Linked DNA regions of Homo sapiens: all the other regions are linked to region 3. The links come from fine-mapping of genetic effects on gene expression. A gene starts in region 3. Each other region holds a variant in brackets. All regions are shown on one strand. Distances are from middle to middle. Region 1 overlaps COL24A1 (collagen type XXIV alpha 1 chain). Region 2 overlaps ZNHIT6 (zinc finger HIT-type containing 6). Region 3 holds the start of ZNHIT6 (zinc finger HIT-type containing 6).

Evidence for each region. PIP is the estimated chance that this variant, and not a neighbour inherited with it, causes the effect. A credible set is the group of variants that fine-mapping cannot tell apart.
Region 1: its variant is the best candidate, but not a certain one, in a credible set for the expression of ZNHIT6 in nasal epithelium (TOPMed, PIP 0.58).
Region 2: its variant is the best candidate, but not a certain one, in a credible set for the expression of ZNHIT6 in stomach (GTEx, PIP 0.51).

The regions. Positions count from the first base shown.
Region 1 is chr1:85,818,319-85,822,564 of GRCh38, forward strand. The region is part of intron 45 of COL24A1 (collagen type XXIV alpha 1 chain); the gene reads right to left. Among named protein-coding and RNA genes, the nearest start is that of ZNHIT6, 110 kb to the left of the region's middle. The variant T/A (reference allele first, on the strand shown) is at 2,139.
Region 2 is chr1:85,672,100-85,676,345 of GRCh38, forward strand. The region is part of intron 8 of ZNHIT6 (zinc finger HIT-type containing 6); the gene reads right to left. Among named protein-coding and RNA genes, the nearest start is that of ZNHIT6, 34 kb to the right of the region's middle. The variant A/G (reference allele first, on the strand shown) is at 2,135.
Region 3 is chr1:85,706,226-85,710,471 of GRCh38, forward strand. It overlaps ZNHIT6 (zinc finger HIT-type containing 6), which reads right to left and starts at 2,208. Exons shown (of 10, transcript NM_017953.4): 1 at 1,404-2,208; 2 at 217-282; 3 at 24-130. The coding sequence starts at 2,059. RefSeq lists enhancers at 1,465-2,298, 2,001-2,360, 2,299-3,131.

The DNA.
Region 1 (4,246 bases), 110 kb after region 3:
AATTTAAACTGTACTTCTAAAAGGGACCTGAATAGATTATTTAATAAATGTCCCTACTTTCAGGAAGGGCCTTGATCTCCTTTTGAAAATGCTACATATTTACTTAATTCAGTAAACATTTATTGAGTATCATGTATCAGGGACTCTGTCATGCGCTTGGAAGGCAAAGGCAAAGTTCCTCCTTACAAGGCACTTACAGTGTGGTAAGAAGAACATGAACTGATAGCCTAAAATGTGCTTTTCTGGAAGAATAGAGAAGAGCATACTTGTGATTCAAGGAAAAGATATTTATTTCCCACGGAACTGTTTGTTTTTCCATGTGTGAGATGTTTTAAATCATAATTGATTCAGCAGTAATGGGTCTGCCAGGATAGTTAGGAACTTTGCTCTTGCAAATCATGCCATTGTTCTGATGACATTCTAAAAGTATTTAAAGAAGAAAATGTGGAAAAGGTGACTTGGTTCACAAATAAGAAAAGGAATCATGTTGTCATTACCAGACACATTTCTCAGAAATCATCAGAAGTTCTCACAAACAGGATAATCCCACTAAAATGGGATGTTAAATCATTCAATTTTGAAGACAAATTGTGCTAAAGATTCAGTTTAATAATAACAACAAAGAAACAACTTCAAAAGATGTTACTTTTTTGACAACCAGCTTAAACATTTTATGAAGAAATAGTATATGTTGTCACAGAGAAAAAGAGCATCTTCTCTAAGAGATAAAAATCCAACTTTTGCAGGATTTGACAATGGGGAGATATAAGGATCATGGGTTGTACTTCCAACTTTGAAAACTATTGTACTTGTCTTAGAAGTCACTAATGCAAAATGTTTCTAAAGATGAGGAAACCAGAAAATGGGATAGTTAGTGACCTGGGTTTAATTAAAGTATACACATTTCTAGAGCATATGATCCCTATAAGTAAAATATGTTTTTCCTAACACAATAAAAAAGCAAAATAAACAAAGACTATTTTAAATAGTGGAAAAAAGTTGTGATTTCAGTCATCTTGAAATACTTATTAAATAGCATATGAATCATAATATGCAATTATGTTAATCAGTGTGTTTTTTCCTTTACAGTATTTCTTTTTATGCAACGAGATATATCTGTTCTATACTTTTGATTTTTCAAAATAGACTTTTCCTTGGCTTTTGAATTTTAAAATAGTCCAATGAAACTCATGGTGGGGGTAACAGTTTGAAAAAAATATGTTTTCAGTTTCAAAATCATGTTTTTTAAACACAAAAGCCTGACTCTTAAATATTAAAAGTCTATCTTTGAGTTAAAAACCAAGGTTTGTTATAAAGGACTCAAGTCATAAAATTTATGCTATAAAGAACAGATTTAAAATAATAATAATAATGTAACAAAGAGTTTTTCCCATGAAAGGGGATAAAGATCCTCAAGCTGGGGAAAGGGAAAAGAAGAAGAAAAAGAGAAGCGGGACTGTTAGACACTGACGGCAATCTCTGAAAAGAGCCCCTTGCCCCTCATCCTACCCTTGAGTCTTTCTCTTTTCCTTTTTTTTTTTTTTTTTGAGACAGAGTCTCACTCTGTCACCCAGGTTGGAGTACAGTGTCATGATCTCGGCTCATGGCAACCTCCACCTGCCAGGTTGAAGTGATTCTCCTGCCTCAGCCTCCCAAGTAGCTGGGATCACAGGCATGCACCACCACACCCAGCTAATCTTTGTATTTTTAGTAGAGACGGAGTTTCACCATGTTGGCCAGGCTGGTCTTGAACTCCTGACCTCAGGTGATCTGCCCTCCTCGGCCTCCCAAAGTGCTGGAATTACAGGCATGAGCCACCATGCCTGGCCTGCCCTTGAGTCTTTCTTAGGGTGGATAGAAACACTAATGCTCCCAGATAAGTTTGGGGATCTGGGCACAAAGATGATGCCTAGGGAGACTAAAGTCCTCATTGAGAAGTCCACATAAAGTACATAGAGTAAAAATCTCTGCATGACATGTCTAGGACAGTGGGATTAAGAATGTCTTTCTGAGTCCTCCAAGTACCCTGTATGGTGTGGGGAGCAGAGAATGTTATTTATATGTGGCCAAGAACAGAAGAAGATGGCCCTGAGAGGCCTGAGGAGGTCTTGTACCTGAGATGAGCAAATAGCTGCACA[T/A]GCCAGCATAGGTCAAAATACTTCTGGCAGGAGGGCCAAGGTAGATGCCAATACGGTGAGACAATAGCAACTGTGGGCCAAAAGTGATGATGTGCATTTCAGGGGACACTAGTGTGAACAGATGATGACTGAAGACTAAACTTATTTTCCACCTGCCTTCCCTACCATCTGTAACTCCAAATTTGAAAAGAGTGAGTGGGGAAAACTCTAAATCAAATGTAGGATATTTGAGTGAATGGGGTTAAAGGCAGTCAATGGATTAGATTTACAGTACATATAAAATTGTGCTTTCTTTTTGCCTGGCCAGCACTGAAAAATAGGTAGAGTGGCCCATTTGAAATCAGATCCATTTTGAAAGGCTTCTGTTCATTGGGACTGTGCTGGTTCACAGACTACTAGAGAAAGCAGTCTGATTCTTTTGATAAGGGAAATATTTTTTAATATGCAACGTTAATACAAACGCTTGTTTTTTGTTTGTTTAAATGAGGCTGAAGGACAGTTATCTAGATACTTCACTAGTTCTAACACTCTTTAAGAAGGCAGCTTTATAAAGCAAAAATAGATTTAGAGAGTTAAGCAAAAATTATTCTTTCTTTTTTCACCAAGAAATTTCAATTCATTGAAATCTGGAATTTTGTTTTGGGAGAACAAATATTTTGGCTTGAGTCTTGGTCTTTGAGAGTCATTATAGGACAGTTCACTCACATTTGCATTACAAAAGTCTTTTAAAAAATGTTGGTTCTGCAATTGGTTTTGACTTGCTCTAAATTTTTCTTTATAGCTGCCCACAGTCTTATGCCCAATGAATGAATTGGTTGGTTAGGTTAAATTAATCATATTTTACTTAATTTTTAAAAGATTACAAGTAATAGGCTTCTTCATAATAACAGGAGCTAGGAAATAAAGTTTCTAGTGTTGTTTCTGTTGCTAATTAGTTCTGTGATTTTAGGTAACTCATAATCTCTCTGGGATTTTAATTTCTTCATTTGAAAATTAAGAGGGTTATCCAGATAATTTTAAAGGGTCATTTCCAAATCTAAAAAATAAATTTAAAGCTTTGCAAAAACAAGATGACAGCAATTGGACAGGACCCATCTGGCCACTGAAGGTGTCCCTAGTGAATAATACACAGTCAGTCATTATTCTTGTAGCAATTAATACTATTTTAAATTCTAAGAGGCTTTTTAATGTGCCCTTGGGTTGTATGCCAGCATTACCCAAAGCAGGGAAGAACTAGCTTGCCTGGATTATACAGAATTTAAACTATGGCTTCTTAGCACCTTTTAGCTCCAACACGCAGGGATTGTTGACCATGTAGGCTAGAGAGGCAGTTGACTAGTAAAAGTATTTGATATTCATTAGCCTAATTTTAACATATACTAATAAGCATCAGAAAATGTCTTACTCCTGAGACCTCTCAAGATGGAAAAAGAAAGCCTGCAAATATGAAAGTATTAATTGTAAAAAAGTAGATACTTTCGGATCAAATGTTGGACAGAACTTGCATTCTTAGGCACTTACTGCAAATATAAGGAAGTAGCATGACAGCAGTAGCAGTATTCTAGGTTCCCAATGTTTTCTATGACTTTTTCCAATTTGAGTATTAAAAATTCTAAGTGAATGACTTAACTATCTTCTTTCTCTGCTTGTTTAGGCTTATCTTCGATATGATATTTTTATTTATTAATATTATTTATTGGGGAACCTAACAGAAAGTTACTGAATAGATGCCAAGACTATACAAAATGGGTTCTAGGTAAGTGAATGCCTATTTAACATATCTGATTCAACCCCATTTTATTACTTACTCCCATAAGTGGAAAACACAAATATGGGTGAAGGCTGCTTAACAAATCAGGAGAAACACAATCTCAAATCATTACTTTTTATTCATTCTCATCTAATTTATTATTAACAGTGTAGTGCATTTTCTTAAGAATTTAATTTGAAATCAATAGCATGTGAAGTCAGAATGCCTGAAAAACAGGGCAGCAATGAATTGAAGGTGCAAATGACAAAGTTGCTTGCTATTTAAAGTTGAGGCAATGTCTATCTGGCCACATGGAAAGAGAAGACTAAATTCAGTAAACCAACAGATTTTTAGTTTG
Region 2 (4,246 bases), 34 kb before region 3:
AGGTCATTCTTTTCAAAAGTAGTGTTCCTGAAAATGATGCCACCCCTACATGAAACTCAACATGCTCTTAGCCTCTCCAGACCTTACTTTTATCTCTCTGTAAACAGCAATCATGCCAGAAACTGTAGTCACCTTTGATTCCTATTTATTGCTCCCTATAGCCAACTTGATCACCAAGTCTTACTGCTTTTTTTTTGCTAGATTTTTACAGTTTTCTACTGCCAAGGAGACCAGATCCAGACAGCGTTAGTATTGGGTCTTGAACTAACTCTTCAACCTTAACTTTTAAAAAAAAGTTTAAAAAATACTGCTCTGCATACATCTATACACTCCAACCTCCTCAAATCACTTACTTGCCTTGTTTATGACATACCATGCCCTTGCACTTCTTAAGGCCCTCTGTACCCTCTCCTAGTCATAGGCCATTCACCTTTAATAAAAATCAAACATCACTTCCACAACAAAGCCTTCTGATGACATGAGGATACCTGCTACCTTCCACATCACTTTTAAGACTTAGACATAGGTTTCTTATGATATATACAGTGTGTCTGTTTTCCTTACTACAACAGAACTGTATTTTATTCATTCTTGTATAAACTCCAATTTTTATTTATATGCCTAGAAGATTAAATGTACTTAATGGTTTTTTTTGAATAAATTTGGAAAGGATCATCCTATAACTGCTTAAATCACAAAAAAAAAAAAAACCACGAAGATTTACAAGTATCAAAGCAGCAAAGTAAACATAAAAAACAAAATGTATCTAAATTTCTTTCTGGTAAATAATTCCATAAAAGTAAAATCCAGGCTTAAAATTTAATAGATTTGGAAAACTGTACTTGAATAGACAAAGTTGGTTGTTTTATAAATTCTTCAGTCAGTAGTAACTTAAGTGGGCAGTAATACAACAGCTGCCCTCTGATAGTGCCTGACATTTAGCAACATAGGCTTTTCTAGTCCAAAACCACTCATTTACTTTCTGAGAATAGAAAGTTGGTAAGAAATAAGGCGGCAAAGGGCAAGAATGGCTTTACTAACACAAGCATCTTACATGAATGATCTTCTCCACAGGGGCAGGAACACTCTTCTTTACTGCCATAGCCTCAATGTCTAGAACAGCATCTAGACTTTGGCATACTCACTGTTTGCTGAATGAATAAGTGAATTTATTTAAAAAGCTATAATAGCTTTTCTAAGAGATAAATTCAGACCCTATGTATTCTGGAAAGAAAACTCCCAAACAGATCAGTAGCGAATTCCTTAGATTAGACATACATTCTAGGATCGCAATTTAAAAAATAAGTCATGTATGGCAAAGCTAAAACCTGGAAAAAACTTAAGCATGCTCTAGCTGACCAGGTATATCTATATCATGAGACAATTGCTATATACCTTCCAAGAATGGAAAGTAAAACCAATGGAAACTGGCAACATCAAGTATTTGGTAAAAAGACTTTACTCTGAAGTTACTGTAATGCTGTAAATGTAGAATTAAACAGCCACAAAGAAACTACATGTTTCTGATTTCTAAGCACTTTTCAGGAAATTAATAAAATGGTTCTATTTAGAATGCTTATCTTAAATTAGAGCTTAACATTTATAACCTATAATAATTTTCCTTAGATGTTCTCTGAATGTACTTTCCTTTAAGGATGTAACTGTAATGTACTTTCCTTTAAGGATGTACCAATCAAATGTAAATGCTCATCTTAGTCCATTCATGAGTATGTTACAGAGAACATTATGTTTTAAAAATCTGATAAAAAATAAAAATCTACGCCTAAATATATCTCTATACTATCTAACTTCATTACTTATGACTACAAAATACTTATAAAATTGAGGTTCTTTAGAAATTAGCATAACTATGCTTTGTGGCTGACCTAATAATCAGAAATATAAAGATGCCCTATGCCAATTTAGGTCCAACTTCAAGAAGAAAGCTACCTCAACAGGAATTTCTGACATTATTATTGCTGTCAAATGATGCCATCACTACTCAAGGCTAAACAGAATGGCAATTTTTAAATTGGACCTGGGACATAACCTTTTCCCCCTTCCTTTGCTTTGATAGTATTTTCATATATTACTTAGTTCGAGTCAATAGCAAAAATGGGGGAATTTGGAAGAT[A/G]AGCTTTCTCCACAGATAAGGTAGAGTGAAAGTACTTTCATGTTCCTCAGACTGGCTCAGGTTTATCTTTTTCTTTTTTTTTTCGGAGACGAGGTCCTGCTATGTTTCTCAGGCTTGTCTCAAACTCCTGAGCTCAAGCAATCTGCCTGCCTCATCCTCCCAAAGTGCTGGGATTACAGGCATGAGCCACAGGCACCCAGCTAGGCTCAGGTTTAGTATCAAATCAGTCTATTCTAGGTATTCCTTATAGTCAACACCACTTACTTTTTACTTTATTAATCTACTATTCCCTTCACTTTGGCGATTAAAAAGGTCAGTTTTGTTTAGTAAAATCCTAAAATCAATTCCACGTAATTCATGTTTAAACAAAATAATTTACATTGTTTCCTTGGAATTTACCTCTAGTCAATCATTACATAATTCTTTTATTATCTGTTTCATCTTCTAAATTCAGTTCCTTTCTTGCCATGTGCCATATTTTATCTAATTAGTTCATTTAAATGTTACTCATGTTTTAAGCCATGAGACCATGGCTTTAGTCTCACAAGCCTACTAAGAGAATATCTCTGAGGGCTAATGTGTCCACTCACCTAAGCCAGTCAAACTTGACTCTGACAAAATAGCCTCTTCTTCCAAAATTCAAGGAAATCAGAATTCTTGGTAATAAAAGATAAACAGGGGATACTGAGTATTTTAAAATTTATAGTATAGGACACACTGCTTGGGCCCAGAGAACAGTTATTTTTTAAGTTGGAAATGTGTACTGTAAGTCCATGAAGAGCCGAAGTGGATGGAAATCTCTTTGTCCTAGCATACCAGGGTTTTTGAGAAGAGCTGCAGTAATGCCCGTAAGATGTTATGTCCCCAAAGGGAGCAGTTAAGGAAACTGCTCTCATGCCATTGCATAGAAAGGAATCAGGATACCCAGAGACCACAACTCAGAAAGCTACAAGTCAAAACATTAAGACTTATTTTAACAAAGAGCCAAATGGGATAAATCTAAACAAAAAATACGTCAAAGAAGTATGCTTAAATGAAACTCACATGACCTAGCTCTAGGCATTCAACTCCCCTGTGCTTCATTTTCCTTTAAGGTCCTCACTCTAATGTTATAACTTTCCTTCTTTAGAGTCCCAAAGAGGATCGAAGTTGTCAATAAGCAGCAATGTTTTGAAAACAAACTTTTTTTTCTGAGCAGTAGACTTAAAATATTCAGTAAACCATGCCATAAACAGATGTGCTGTCATCCAGGCTTTGTTGTTCCATTTACAGAGCACAGGCAGAATAGATTTAGCATAATTCTTAAGGGCCCTAGGATCTCTGGAATGGTAAATGATCACTGGCTTCAACTTTAAGTCCCCAGCTGCATTAGCCCCTAACAAGAGGGTCAGTCCATCCCTTGAAGCTTTTATGGCAGGCATTTACTTCCCCTCTCTAGCTAAGTCCTACATGCCATCTTCTTTCAATACAAGGCTATTTTGTCTACATTGAAAAATCTGTTTAGTGTAGCCACCTTCATCAGTTATCTTAGCTAGATCTTCTGGATAACCTGCTGTGGCTTCTACATCACCATTTGCTGCTTCACCCCACACATAACCCACAGGTTATAGAGATGGCTTCTTTCCTTAAACCCCATGAACCAACCTCTGCTAGCTTCAAACTTTTCTTCTGCAGCTCCCTCACCTCTCTCAGCCTTCATAGAGTTGAGAGTTAGGGCCTAGCTCTGGATTAGGCTTTGGCTTAAGGGAATGTTCGGGCTGGTTTGATCTTCTATCCAGACCACTAAAACTTTCTCCCTATCAGCAATAAGACTGTTTTACTGGCCGGGCGCGGTGGCTCACGCCTGTAATCCCAGCACTTTGGGAGGCTGAGGCAGGCAGATCACCTGAGGTCGGGAGTTTGAGACCAGCCTGACCAACATGGAGAAACCCCGTCTCTACTAAAAATACAAAATTAGCCGGGCGTGGTGGCACATGCCTGTAATCCCAGCTACTCAAGAGACTGAGGCAGAAGAATCGCTTGAACCTGGGAGGCGGAGGTTGCGGTGAACCGAGATCACGCCATTGCACTCCAGCTTGGACAACAAGAGTGAAACTCCGTCTCAAAAAAAAA
Region 3 (4,246 bases):
TTGCTATGCATAAAGTGGCTTACCACTTAGGAGATTCATTTCAGTAAACTGTTGTATTGAAATGTATGCAGTTTTATCTCGAACTCCATTACATGTCAGTTCTGCTTTGTGTTTCTTTACACAGGGCAAACTGAAAAGACAAAGGGGAAGTACTTTTATATTTTAGGGTAAGAAAGGTACAGATACAGGTTAAAAGGTAGGAAGTTACATGTATACCTGCAGGAATATCGCATACAACGTGGACATCTGTACTTTGCTTCTTCTGTACCACAAGTCTCACACCTACAAAAGCCCACATGTAACATTAAATTATCAAATATTAATTGTATTTATTTATAAACTTAGAATTCCCAATCAATTTATAAACTCAGTGACAAGTAACTGATAAAATATTTGATAGCTGTTGAACATCATTTGAAAATTCTTCTCTATGAAACCTTCCCAAAACAACTACATTTCCAATGTTGTTAGTGATATGTAACTCAGGAAAATGTATTAAAATTTTTAAAACCCATCTCGCTTTTGACTTCTTTTTCTACTATAATCAGGGAATGAGATTATTCACTGATATTTTAACTTGTGATTCCTGGAAATGTGGTAATGATTGTATGTGTGTGTATCCAGAAGTCCAATTCATGAGCTATGTTTAGATATTTTTAAAGCACACACCAGACAAAGAATATAAGGCCAAGTGAAATTTAGAGAGTAGTAGTAGCACCCTTTTTCCTGAACTCCACGCCTAATCTAGAATGAGCATCGAAATAATCTAGAAATGCCATGTAACCCATCATCTGTCCTCAACTGCTCTTCTATGCTCCTGGGATACTGACAACCAAACTACAGTTACTTCTATTTAGCCCACTGTGTTCTAGACGGGAATATTCTCAAGAATCTGACTACTCTTATTTCCTTTGTCACATGATCCACACACTAAGGAAATTCAATCAAAAGCAATAAATATTCACAGCACCCATGAAGAAGCTTGATAATTGAGGTCAAGTGTATTTTTGCCTAGTTTTAACTTAATCTACTTTGTCATTGTTAGTTTTATTAGACTTTCTCATCTCTATTCTCTCTCAAAGGAATACCGAGTAAAGAGCATATTAAGTCAAGCCAGATCCAGTTCCAACTGATCTTTTGGTCCCCAGAATTTCCACTTTCCTAACTTGACCATTACCCATTGGACACTACTAATTTCATGTATTTTCACTGAATTTGTTGTGTTGTCATGTACAACACCCTCCACTTCCCAACCCACCCCCGCGAACGCCGTCTGACTCCAGAAACCCAAACTTGTGCTCATTTTTCATTATTCCACCTTCTCCTGATAGTGTGGTTTCCTTCACTCTAGACATGAGGACTCCACAGCTTTATTCCCCTAAATGGAATCCCCCATGCCCTACCTTGACATGGCCAGTTTCCGCTTGCAGCCCACCGGGTGATTTATCGGAGGCTCTTCTTTCACCTTTGTATCATCCACGATTTCTTTCTTCAGGAAATCCTTCTCTTCTTTTACACACTCTCCATGCATCAATTCCTCTTTTATGCATTGACCAACAAACTTCTCCTCCTGTTTTATCTCCAAGTTATCCTTCTCTTCCTTCACTTCTGACCAGTCCATTACCTCTTCCTTTACCTTCTCTTCCTTTACCTCTGGTTCACCCACCTTCGCTTCTTTTACCACTAAACTACTATCCGTCTCCTGCTTCACCTCCAATACGCCTGCGTTCTCATCCTTCACCTCAGGCCTATCCTCCACCTCCTGTTCTACCCACTGGCCAGCCAACCTGCCTTCTGTACCTGGCCAGTCTATAATTTCCTGCTTCACTACCGTTAGGTCCATCGGTATTTCCTCTGGCCTTTGTCCACTTCCTTCCTCTCCATCCCCTATCTCCTTTATCCCTGTCAGCCCTGTCCCCTCCTCTCCGCCGCCGAACTCCTCCGCCCCTGCTAAGTCCCTTACTCCCTCCCTGCCAGGCTCTGGACTTAGCCGCACCCCCTCAGCTACGCTGTGGAGACCTCCCCCAGACTTCCCTTCATTTTCAGCAGCAAACTCCATCAACTCACGATCCTTGGCCTCTGCTGCCACTCTATCCTTCAATGTGGCTGCTGCACACCAATAGGAGGAATTACCGGTCGGAATACCTACGGCGGCCCACGTGTGGAGCCAAGCAGCCACAAACCCGGAATAGCCTGCTTGACGCGACTGCTCGAATCGCCGTAAAGCTACGCTTTTGCGCCTCGCCCCTTCACGACTTGTAGAGCTCTTTACGGCTCTGCGGAGGCCCTGCCGGATTCTCTGGGCGAACAAGCGTAACTGCGTGACTTGCCCGCTGGGGTTCTCGTCTCCTTCCTGGTTTCCACCACCCTCTTCCCTTAGAGAAGCCTCCTGGGCCACTCCCTGGGCCACCCTCCACGCCCTGCTGGGTGTAAAGAGTGTAGGAGACCGGCAGAGGGAGAGAAGCGAAACCCTTACACTCTGGAAGTGGGAAAACCCACCCTAATCTGTGTTAACCATTAAATCCAATCTTGCATGAAAATGGAGGACACACCTGATGTTATTAGGCCTTTCCAAGCTTTAGTTTCTTAAAGCTATAAACTAGGGACCATGGTATTATTAATATAAATCTCCCAGTGTCATTGCAAAGATTATATGAGATCATGCATGGAAATCAACTAGCAGTGACGGACACAAACTCGATATATAACTGGGAATCCTGATGGGCTTCAAACCGCCTGGTTTCCACCACCCCCTTCCCTTAGGGAAGCCTCCTGGGCCACACCCTAGGCCACCCTCCACGCCCTACTGGGTGTAAACAGTGGAGGAGACCGGCAGAGGGAGAGAAGCGAAACCCTTACACTCTGGAAATGGGAAAACCCACCCTTATCTGTGTTAACCATTAAATCCAATCTTGTATGAAAAAGGACACACCTGATGTTACACCTTTGCAAGCTTTAGTTTCTTGAAGCTATAAACTAGGGAGCATGGTATTATTAATATAAATCTCCCAGTGTCATTGCGAAGATAATATGAGATCATGCATAGGAATCAACTGTCAGTGACAGACACAAACTCAGTGTATAACTGGGAATCATGATGGGTTTCAAGTAGGAAAGAGGGCATTAATTTTTCTTTCCATTCTTTCTAAGTAACAGCCTGCGTCAGGCTATTCCCCATTCCCAGCATTCTGCAGGATTCTCTCAGAGAACATCATAAATATATTAGGCGAAAGTGCCTAATGCCCGGTATTGCTGAATAACATTGCATTGTATGAATGTGGCACGTTTTTTCATGCATGTACCAGTTGGTGGGCATTTGGCTTGTTTCCAGTTTGGGCTATTACGAATAATTCTGCTTCCACATTCATATGCAAGTCTTTGTGTGGACATGTTTACATTTCCCGTTAAGTAAATAACTAGGAGTGGAATTGCTGGGCCATATAAATTTATGTTAATTTTTAAAGAAATGCCCAAACTGTTTTCCAAAGTAGCTATACCATTTTACATTCCTACTGGCTGAGGGTTCCTATTTCTCTACATCCCGGCCAATTCTTAGTATTATCAGTTATTTGATTATAGATGTGTAGGGGTACGTCATTGAGAATTTACATTTCTTTAATGACTAATGATGTTGAACATCTTTTCATCTGCCAACTGGCCATTTGGATATTTTCTTTAATGAAATGTTTATTCAGATCTTTTGCCCATTTTTAATTGACGTCTTTTATTATCAAATTGTAGTAGTTCTTCATATATTATGGATATAGGTTTGTGGTAGACAAGCACCAGTATGTTCCCCAGTGATTCTCCACCCCCACAGTGTTCAGACCAATGTGTAGACTGCTCCTGCATCATCCCAGGATTGGTCTGTGTCACTGATAGCATACAGCAGAAGTAATACGTTACCTCTAAGATTAGGTTTGGAGAAAGGCTGTGGTTTCTGCCTTAGGCTCTTGCTTTTTTGGTCTCCTTCCTAGATCATTCACTCTGGGGGAAGCAAGCTGCCAGGTTGTGAGTACCAAGAGGCCCATGTGGTAGTGGGCCGAAGTTACTGGCTCTTACAGGCTGAATTGTGTCCCCTCAAATTCGTGTGTTAAATCCGTAACACCCAGTACCTTAGACTGTGAGTATATTTGGAGATAGGACCTTTAAAGGTGATTTCGTTAAAATGAGACCATTAAGGTCGGCCCTAATCCAATCTGACTGATATCTTTATAAGAAGAGGAAATTTGGACACAAAAAGAGA